Homo sapiens: one gene and its partner. The protein of the gene in region 2 interacts with the protein of the main gene of each other region in a pairwise test. Each region holds a gene or a part of one and is shown on either strand. Other genes may lie near its edges.

Evidence for each region. Proteins that work in one complex are often made in the same cells at the same time.
Region 1: the proteins of SLAIN2 (region 2) and SGO2 interact in a two-hybrid assay, tested with the Homo sapiens proteins (one large-scale study listed by BioGRID).

What each region holds. Positions count from the first base shown.
Region 1 is NC_000002.12:200,524,010-200,529,472, reverse strand, and holds the start of SGO2 (shugoshin 2), read right to left. Parts: upstream 3,267-5,463; 5' UTR 3,221-3,266; exon of another isoform or gene 2,733-3,220; intron 1-2,732. UniProt on the Homo sapiens protein: Cooperates with PPP2CA to protect centromeric cohesin from separase-mediated cleavage in oocytes specifically during meiosis I. Has a crucial role in protecting REC8 at centromeres from cleavage by separase.
Region 2 is NC_000004.12:48,379,091-48,383,758, forward strand, and holds part of SLAIN2 (SLAIN motif-containing protein 2), read left to right. Parts: intron 1-599; coding exon 600-758; intron 759-3,477; coding exon 3,478-3,837; intron 3,838-4,556; coding exon 4,557-4,668.

The sequences.
Region 1 (5,463 bases), on a different chromosome or scaffold from region 2:
TATCACTATCTAACATACTATAGATTTATTTATTGTCTGTCTTCCCCAACTAGAATTTAAATTCTAGGAGGTCATGGATTTTTATGTTTTATTCACTGATATATTCCCCAGCGCATGGAATAGCGCCTTACAAATGATATCAACACAGTAAATATTTGTTGAATGAATAAGTAAGTCTTAGAAACTAAAAACTTGTCAGGCATCAAGATTAGGAAGGGCATTCCAGGAAGAAAGAATGGCATGTGTAAATGCATGAAAATGAAACATTTAAGAAAATACAAGTGGTCCCTTGATGCTGGAATGCTATGACCTGATTTCCCTGCTTCCCTTCACAGCAAAACTCCTTTAGAGAGTTGTCTATACTTGATGTCTCCAATTTATCTCCTCCCAGTCTCTCTTGATCCACTACAATGAAATTTCTGCTCTCACCACTACTATATGGGAACTGTTCATTAAGGTCACTGAATTACTATGTTGTTAAATCAAATACTGTGGTCAGGCCCAGTCTCTTTTTACTTGATCTGTGAAAAGCATTTAATATCAAGTCATTCCTTCCTTTTGAAATACGCTCTTCACTTGGTTGCAAAATAGCACATTCTTCTGTTTGTTCTGAGGCAGGATTTTCTCCTGCCTCGCTGACCACTTCTCAGTCCCTCTTGCTGGTTATTCTTCATCTCCCTAACCTCTTACCACTGGAGTGCCCCAGATCTCAGTCCTTGGATCTCATCTCTTTTATATTTACATATACTCCCTGGACTATCAGCCAGTATCCTGGCTTTTAAATCTAAATGCTGATAACTCTCAAATTTGTGTTCCCAATCTAGACTTTTCCCTTGAACTCCAGATTTATTCATCCAACTGCCTACTACGCATCTCCAACTAGGATTTCTAACACACATCTCAAATTTAACATGTCCTAAACTCCCCCCACCCCAACCTACTCCACCATGTCCTCCCTAGCTCACTTAATGACAACTCCATTCTTTCAGTTGCTCAGGTCAGAAAGTTCCTTTCATATCCCACATCTATTCTATGATCAATTATGCTGACCCAGCTTTCACAATATATCCACCTGGGCTACTTACCACTATTTCTACTGCTACCACTTTGATTCAAGTTGCCATTCTCTCCCATGTACATTATTTGCTATAGCTACGTGAATGGTGTCCCTGCTTCCATTTTCTCCCCGACTATCTATTCTTAACCTAGCAACCACAATGATCCTTTTAAAGCTTAAGTAAATTCATGTTACTCCCATGTTAAAAAAAACTCTCCAGTAGCTTTCCATCTCACTCAATCTTTAAAATGGCCTAGAAAGTACTATACAATTTGACACTTCTCTTCCCCAATTAATCATCAGTGAACCTTTCTAATCCTTTTCATTAATCTTTCTCTTGCTCAATAATCTCTGGCCACACTGCCTACCTTGACATGCTCTAAAGCAGAAACTTTTATTCCTTCTTCCCTTTGTATCAACTCTTCCTTCAAATGACCACAGGGCTTGCTCACTTCCTTCGAGCATTTGCCAAAATGTCACTTTCTTAGTGAGCCTTCCCAGTCCAAACTACTTAAAAACTGCACACTTACCCCCATTCTCCCCTTCTGTTTTATTTTTCTCCGTTAACTTATCAATGTCTAAGATAAAATTAAATAGTTAACTTATTATCTGTTTTCTCCTACTAAATTGTAAGTTCAATGAGGGCATAAACTTTTGTCAAATTTGTTTGCTTCTGTACCTTAGTACAGAAATGTGCCTGCCACATAGCAGCTGCTGGATAAACATTTGTGGAAGAAGTGACTATGAATGAATGGAAGAACTTTCCAATAGAAAAACCGCCCACTCTTGGAATGGGTCTCCTTTGAAAGTGTTAAGCAGATGTTGGGAGGTGTCAAGCAAATAACGGAAAGATGGTTTTAGAAGAAATTTCTGCAATGGGGAATAAGTTGAACCAGAAACCTTTCAAGATTAAGGCTCAACAGTTCTTTTAAACGTTTTGCCAGGAAGAAACTTTAAAATCAAAGATCACTATCTATCTCAAAGACAGTAGAACACAGAAACTCCCCACAAACTGTTGCATCTCACACACCTGAAAGGGATCCTAACATAGAAATCTAGTTCATCTCCCAAAAAATCCAGTCTGGAATATCAAATCTCACTTTACTAATTAGGAAACCACAGCTGGACTGCCCTCCCCAATAAGCTGGTTCTGACACAATTCCTTAATTTAATAAACGACACTGTCAATCGCCTATTCAAATCCTCATGCCAGAAATCTGGGAGTGTTCCTTGACACTGCCCTGCAACCCCCTACATCAATGACCTCACCAAGGGAAACTTTAGGAGCCAGAACCAGGCATTTGGGGTACTGTTCCAGGGTGATTTACCATATAGACACTGAGACATTATGATAGTGATTACAACTGTGTTGGAGCTCCAGTTCCAACGTTTCATAGCTATGTGATCTCAACACCTCTTCGTCTCAATTTCCAGATTTATAAAACCATAAAAAATAAGGGCATCTCCTTGTAGGGACTAAATGAGCCAATGTATGTACAGTGTCTAGTACGGGACCTGGTAAACTATCAGCACTCAATACCAGCACTCTGTGACACTTGTCCGGCCAGCATCTCGACTATCTCTAAATACGAAATACTCAGTTCCACATCCAATTCTCCTGAATTGGATACCTCATCTAAAAAATCATTGTCCCTATTCTCTACTGAAATCCTACCTGTACATCAAGCAGCTCAAGTTCTAAGTTCCAAGTTCTCCCTAGTCTTCCATCACCCCTTCGCCTTCAGCCAGCCTCTCCAAACGAGAGGGCTCCTTCGAGAACTTTGGCACGCAGTCCCTAACATTCATTCCGCAGACACGTACTGAGCGCTCACAATGCCCTAGAAACTGTTCAAGGGAGTAGAGCAGTCCCAGAGACAGAAATATCTTCCCTTAAGTAGCTGACCTAACTGGTGGCTCTCCCCGCTCGCCCTGCCGGACGCTCAAATCTCAGAAACAAGAGGCAGCGACTCAAAGCCAAAACAGGACTCCGTCAACGAACCCCTCGTAGCCGGAGAGGGGCCGCCGTCCCGGATCCCGGAGGACAGAGGGCGGAAGACGAGCCGGAGACCGAGGCGGACAGCGCCTAGAGAACCGACTCAAGAACGACACCGATCCCGACAGGGAGAGGGCGGTCACGTCAACTGCCGCAGGCCACTAACTTACCTCTCTTTCAGCGTGGGGCACCCCCACCCAGCTCCGGGAGCTCGGCGAGCAGCAGCGGCTGCGGCTTGGGTTTAAACGCCACAGCCGTTGGCGGTTGCCCCATCAGCCAATCGGGTCCTGCGAAGATGGAGCAAGGGAGGGCGGTTACTAGGAAGTGAAAGGCGGAAAGGGCGGGACGCCGCTGCTAGGGCAGGAAGGGGCGTGCCCAGGCGAGCCGGGGGCGGCACAGTCTGCGTGACAGGGGTGCTCTTCCGCCCTGTGTTGGTGGCGGTCCGCTGTCTCCTGAAGCGTTGATGGAAAAGGAAACTCTCCTCTGACATTCATTATCAATCACATGTCTGAAAGGCTTGACAGCCACCTCAAGTCTGTTAGAAGGTTTATGTTGTTTACTGGGATACTACCCACCCACATCTTACCATTTCTTCTGCATCCTTGCATTTCCAAGTGTGACGCCAGCACATTTAGTTTTCACTTAAAAGCTCTCCCCGTTTTTCTTTTAACTTTCTGGGGGAAAAGCAGCAATGACATTTCGTTGCAAACCCCGGATCTCATTAATATTTAGGTCTTGCACTAATGGTCTGTTTTAGCTGAATATACAAGAATGACGTTTTCCATTATACACAACTACATTTTAAAAATGTATTATTCACCTTATATTCCATGTCAATTCGCTTATTTTTCGCAAATTACTTTCATAATTTTTACAAAGAATTTGGAGAAACTACAAAGAATAAAATTTCCTCTTTGTATGCCATTGGACTGAAAATGAAAATAGCTTGTTAAATCAAGGTTCCAATAATTGATGATACAGTAATGCAGTCAGCTTCATATTCTTGTCAATTTTTTGTTCATTCGAAGACATTTGAGAATTACAGCTTTCCATTTTTACTTTAAAGAATCTAGACAAATGATGCAAAACATGCTTTTGAGTTAAGATCTTTTAGTCTAATATAAATCACGATCAGTCTCCAAACAGATCTGGTTACATGAATCTTGTGTAAGTAGAAAAGTATTTACTGATTGTCCAGCTGCTAAAATTCCAGAAGACAGTGGTTTACAAAGTAATATACTGGTTATAGAAATTTATGCTTACCTAGGAGTTAACTAGCACTATATCTTGTTTACCCAGCCTGACACATTAAATGCTCAATGTATGTTATATGTTTTTTTAAATGAACCTTGTAGTGACTGTGCCATTTAATGGTTATTTAATCTTGGCCAAACTACTTAATCTCTCTGGGCTTCTGTTTCCTTATTTGTAAAATGGAGTTAAACAGCATCCCATATATTTTTATGATGGTTTCAATCAATGGGCCCTTTTGTTCAAATACATTAATATTGCTCTCTTCCCAATGGACACATTTTGTAGTTACAGCTTCAAAACCAAAACAAATAGAAAAGGGAGACAGGAAAATCAGAGGTAGAAGAGATGCTAAAACATTTATCAAGACATGAATACCAAGACCTCTTTAAAAAAAAAAGTGCTAGCCGGGCGCGGTGGCTCACGCCTGTAATGCCAGCACTTTGGAAGGCCGAGGCGGGCGGATCACGAGGTCAGGAGAGCGAGACCATCCTGGCTAACACAGTGAAACCCCGTCTCTGCTAAAAATACAAAAAATTAGCCGGGCGTGGTGGCGGGCGCCTGTAGTCCCAGCTACTCCGGAGGCTGAGGCAGGAGAATGGCGTGAACCCGGGAGGCGGAGCTTGCAGTGAGCCGAGATCGCGCCACCGCACTCCAGCCTGGGCGACAGAGCAAGACTCCGTCTCAAAAAAAAAAAAAAAAAAAAAAAAAAAAAAAGTGCTACCTTATCTCAGAGCAGTTGAAAGGATTTAACTGCTTTGTAAATTGTAAAACCTCTTGAAAATGTAAATTAGTATCATATACAACCATAAACCTAAAAGTATAATTAGTCGGGTTAAATTTAACGTGATCTCAGCTTGCTTTTTAGTTATTTGCCTTTTGCCTCTTGGTATAATGGATAGAGGCAGGAGCCCTGGATGAGAAGTCTGGAGATGCAGTTATTATAGTTGTGGCTGAGCCATTAGCTGTGTGTTCCTTGTTTCAAGTATTTTATCTGTAAAAGAAACTAGTTACATTAAATGAGCTCACAGACCTGTTGTGATACTCTCCTGCACTGGGCACTGATTTTGTTCCTCTCCATCTGTTTTCCTTTATTCTTATACTTGTTAGTTGCCTGATTTTCTCTACCTAAGCATAGATTCCAGTCAATTAAAATTTGATT
Region 2 (4,668 bases):
TGGATGTGTGTATTCTTTATTCCTCTGGCCTGTTTTCTGTCTTCCTTTTGGTTTAGAATGATAAAGTACTTTAAACATGGCATAATGTAGGAGAAACAAGCCTCATGGTCTTTGTTCCTAAAATCTCTAAGGAATCTAATTTTATTCAAATTATAGTTTTCTCATTTAGAAAAATGAGGGAAAAGATGATGGTGTTTGTCAATGACTGTGAATTCGGGAGAAGAAAACACTACATCATAAACTCATCTATTTATAGAGCAGTTTCATTGGCTATCTTGTGCAAGTTGAAATCCTTAACATATACTTATTGAACACCAATTACTTGCCAGGCACTGTGCTGAAAGCTGAATTGTTACATAAGAGAATAGATAAGTTATACTTAGATGAAAATATGTTTATGCCATAGCATATAAAGGAGTCTCAGTAGCCCTCATTTTTCTTAATGAGGTCAATTTCTAATTTCAGGGAATTTTTTAAGCAGAAAAGGCAGAACAAGAATGAATTAAATCAAAGGGTATAATATCAAGTTAGTTGCAGTAGGCATTTATTCAATAGTTGCTTTACCAGAGTTTGAATTTTTTTCTTTTTTTTTTTTTAAGGTAACTTGAAAAGCTCAGACAGAAATCCTCCACTCAGTCCTCAGTCCTCTATAGATAGTGAGTTAAGTGCTTCAGAATTAGATGAAGATTCAATTGGATCCAATTATAAGCTAAATGATGTAACTGATGTACAGATTCTAGCCCGGATGCAGGAAGAAAGTAAGTATTCTAATTGTTAAGAGTTGAGGTTTTTTACTATTGCATAATTTTGTTGTATATTAAATATGTCTTAAAGTATTGTGGGGGTAGTAATGTAGTGAAAGTAGAAATGTTGCAGTGGACATTTCAGAGACTTAGTCAACATATGTACATGTTTATTCATCAACTTGTTTTCAGAGTCCATTTTTACATAGAGCAGTTATGCTGTGTGAGGGACAAAGAACAGCATTTATGCTGCTCTGCTTCTATGACTGGTTTTTATACCCTGCATGTTACTCTGCACTAGCACTTAACTCTTGTAATTGTTAGTCTATTACCCTTTGTGTTTTAGTGTAAACCAGCGTTTCTCAATTTTTTTCTTTTCGGTTGCTCCCCTAAGGAGCCTTGTTAAAAACTTCTTTTCCTTTTCTCCCACACTCCCCATGAAATCTTAATACCACAAGATATACTCTATATATGTTTAAGTACTATGAGGGCCATATACAATTATGACATCTAGGAATTTTTTCACACCCCAAGAACCAGTTTTTGCCCTCTTGGGAATGAATATCTCCTCACTTGAGAATACATGGTGTAAACTGTAAAAAAGACCTTTAGGAGAACATTGGAATTGTGACATTAAATTAAATGAAGCATGTGATGGTGCTTTGCAGAGTGAATGATGAAAACTTTTTAGGCCACAGATACCTTTGAGAATCCTTTTATCATCAAAGTGTACATATGCACAAAATTTTTAATACTTTTTAAAGGGTTCATGGCTACTTGCCCTGGTACTCATCTGAAGGTACTTATTCTTGCCAGTGCATTTCATTAGAAGATGCCATCTGCATAACTATGAAGTAAGAAATCTCTCTAAAGCAATCTCTTCAACCTTTACAATGAAAAGAATCCTTGAAATACATATGTTGACAAGTCTTGACAGGTGGCTGAGGTTAATGGAGCATTGCTACGGTTTAGTTCAAAAACTTTCTGTTGTCTGTGTATGTAATAGGTTCTCTTTAAATATGTAGTAGGCTTTATCAAGCTGTAGCATTTATTAAGAAACTAAAGTGTTTCTTATTCTGCTGATTCACTTCCCATTTCCATATAGCTTCCCCTAGGAAGATAGAAGGACTTAGTGCTTGCTTTATTTAGCCCTGCAACCTAATAGCAGAGTACTCTTTTTCTTCTGTAATTTTAATTAACTCCTCAGTGAGACTGTGGTATTGTCAGCTGGTTAGGGGGTGGTTATTGTTGTGGATGTGAAAAAATAAAGAATGCTGCCTAACTCTGTACTTTAGAACAAGTTCTCTCATTTCTTTGAACCCTGGCTTTTTAGATCCTAGTATTTTGTTAGAAGCTCAACCAGCTCTTTGCTTTTGGTTTTGTATTGTGTTTTGGTAACAATAGAAATTTTAGTCTTACTTTAATAATTTTTTCTAAGCCATCCACATGCATGAATATTTATTTTCCTGATGAGTAAAAATAGTAATAAAAATATATGTGATACTTCTTGAAAACTACAGCTTTTTTTTTGTCTTAGAGATGATTTTCCTTTTTACAACATTGTGTTTTGTAATGATTAGAAATGTAGAACTACAGATTTGGGCAGTCACCTGGTCAAGGTCATTCGTTTTTAAGATGAGAAATGCAAGCTCCTATAGTGATCCAACAGTGCTCTTTTCATTGGTCTGTTGTCTTTTGTTAGGTGACTTTAGTGCCATGTTGGCTATAACTAGACACTAAGTAACTTGTTGGTTACTATTTTGGTTCCCCGACTAACTGAAGGGCTAAGTGGACTCCAGGAATTTATAGTTTTAAAGATACCCTAGGGTGATTCTCATCCACTGGTTTGATGAACCGTGTTGATAGCACTTTCTGTGTGTGAATACATGACTTTAGGATTTGAATACCACTTTATAACAGATCTTTTTGACTGGAGTGCTAATAGTTAGCAGGTTGTGCTCAGAATATTACCTAAATTCTATACGTTTGCATTGCAGTTTGTTTCTTCATTGACTATGTTACGTATCAACTTTTTTTTCTGTTGTTCTAGAAGCATCTGTACTATTTGAAGGGCTCCCAAGGTTGCTTGGGTGTTTTCGAAGGTATCAAGCTATATAGGAGAATTCTTTGAAAATTCTTACTTGAAGACTTAGAATTTAAGCTTGAAAACAAGCTTAAAACAATAAAAATGGAAGTCTCTTGGGTAGTGAAGCAATCAAGATTTCGTTTGTGCCCAAGTACTGAATTCCTATAAGTGGGTTAGAAGTTTCTTTGGTACTTTATCATCTTCATGAGTAAGATTATTTCAGTAATTAAGTATCCAAGAAGTTTTATTTACTCACATACGTATTCTTTTTCCACTGGTTGGATGGTAATTGTTTCCCCTCAATATTCCTTTAATATTAGTCTCAAATTTGGATTACTGTCTTTAGGGGTAGAAATATTTTTAAATTTATGATTCTACCATGTGAGACAGATTTCAGCTTTAAGAAGAAATCTGGAAATTGGGCAGTGGTTTATGGGATTTCATTCAATTTAAAAATAACCTTCAGATGTGATTTATGCCTCCTTATATGGACATATAAGCCTATATAAGTCTAAAAGCAGAAAGGGAGTTTTCTTTTACACTTTACACCCTCTTTGAATTTTTCAGTGATAATCTTTTACTTTAAATTTTAAAATTATTTAAATGTTTAAAAATATTGTTTAAATAAATAACATTCATTGTTGCCAGGTCTCCGGCAAGAATATGCAGCCACCACGTCTCGGCGCAGTTCTGGTTCATCTTGCAATTCTACAAGACGGGGTACTTTTAGTGATCAGGAACTTGATGCACAAAGTTTAGATGATGAAGATGACAATATGCATCATGCAGTATACCCTGCTGTTAACAGGTTTTCACCATCACCACGCAATTCACCTCGACCGTCACCTAAGCAGTCACCCAGAAATTCACCTCGTTCACGATCTCCTGCTCGGGGAATAGAATATAGTAGAGTGTCCCCACAGCCTATGATTAGCCGCTTACAGCAACCTCGCCTTTCACTTCAAGGCCATCCCACAGATTTACAGACAAGCAATGTTAAAAATGAAGGTAAAATAGCAGATTTTACTAATAATTAGACAGTTTCTGCTAGCCTGTGTAACATAGCAAGACCCCGTCTCTAGGAAAAAAATTTTCAAAATTAGCTGGGCATGGTGGTGCACATCTATAGTCCTAGTGACTTGAGAGGCTGAGGCTGGAGGATTGGTTGAGCCCAGGAGTTCAAAGCTACAGTGAGCTGTGATCACACCATTACACTCCAGTCTGGGCAACAGAGCAGGATCCTGTTTTCAAAAAAAAAAAAAAAAAAAAAGTTTCTAGATTAAAAAAAGAGAAAAAGTGTCCTTTATATTTCACTATGAAAGTAATACAATTTTTGCTAAGTTTTTGTATTTCAGATAAGTAAATCAAGAGTGTAGTCAGGTTTACTATTTTATTAATAGTGAATCATTACAAAAATAAAAGAGAAAGTGAATTTCATTTTACTTGGTTATGTTGTTTTTGCTTTATTGTTTTATGAAGTTACCTGTATTTAGATTTTGCTTTAAATATAAAATTTGTGGTTATCTTTAAGTGTTCTCTTATTCTACCCACTTAACAGATCCTAGATCGAGTTGTTTGTTTTTTTTAATAAGACAAGTCCTTTGTATTTTCTCATCTAAAATAAACAGAATGTTTGATAAACAATTTGATTTTTGAATGCTAGTTAATATTTTAATTTTCTCCATCTGAAAGAATATGATTTTTTTAAAATTAAAATTCTGTTGCAGAAAAACTAAGACGCAGTCTTCCAAACCTGTCCCGAACATCTAATACACAAGTTGACTCAGTGAAAAGCAGCAGAAGTGACTCAAATTTTCAAGTGCCAAACGGAGGAATACC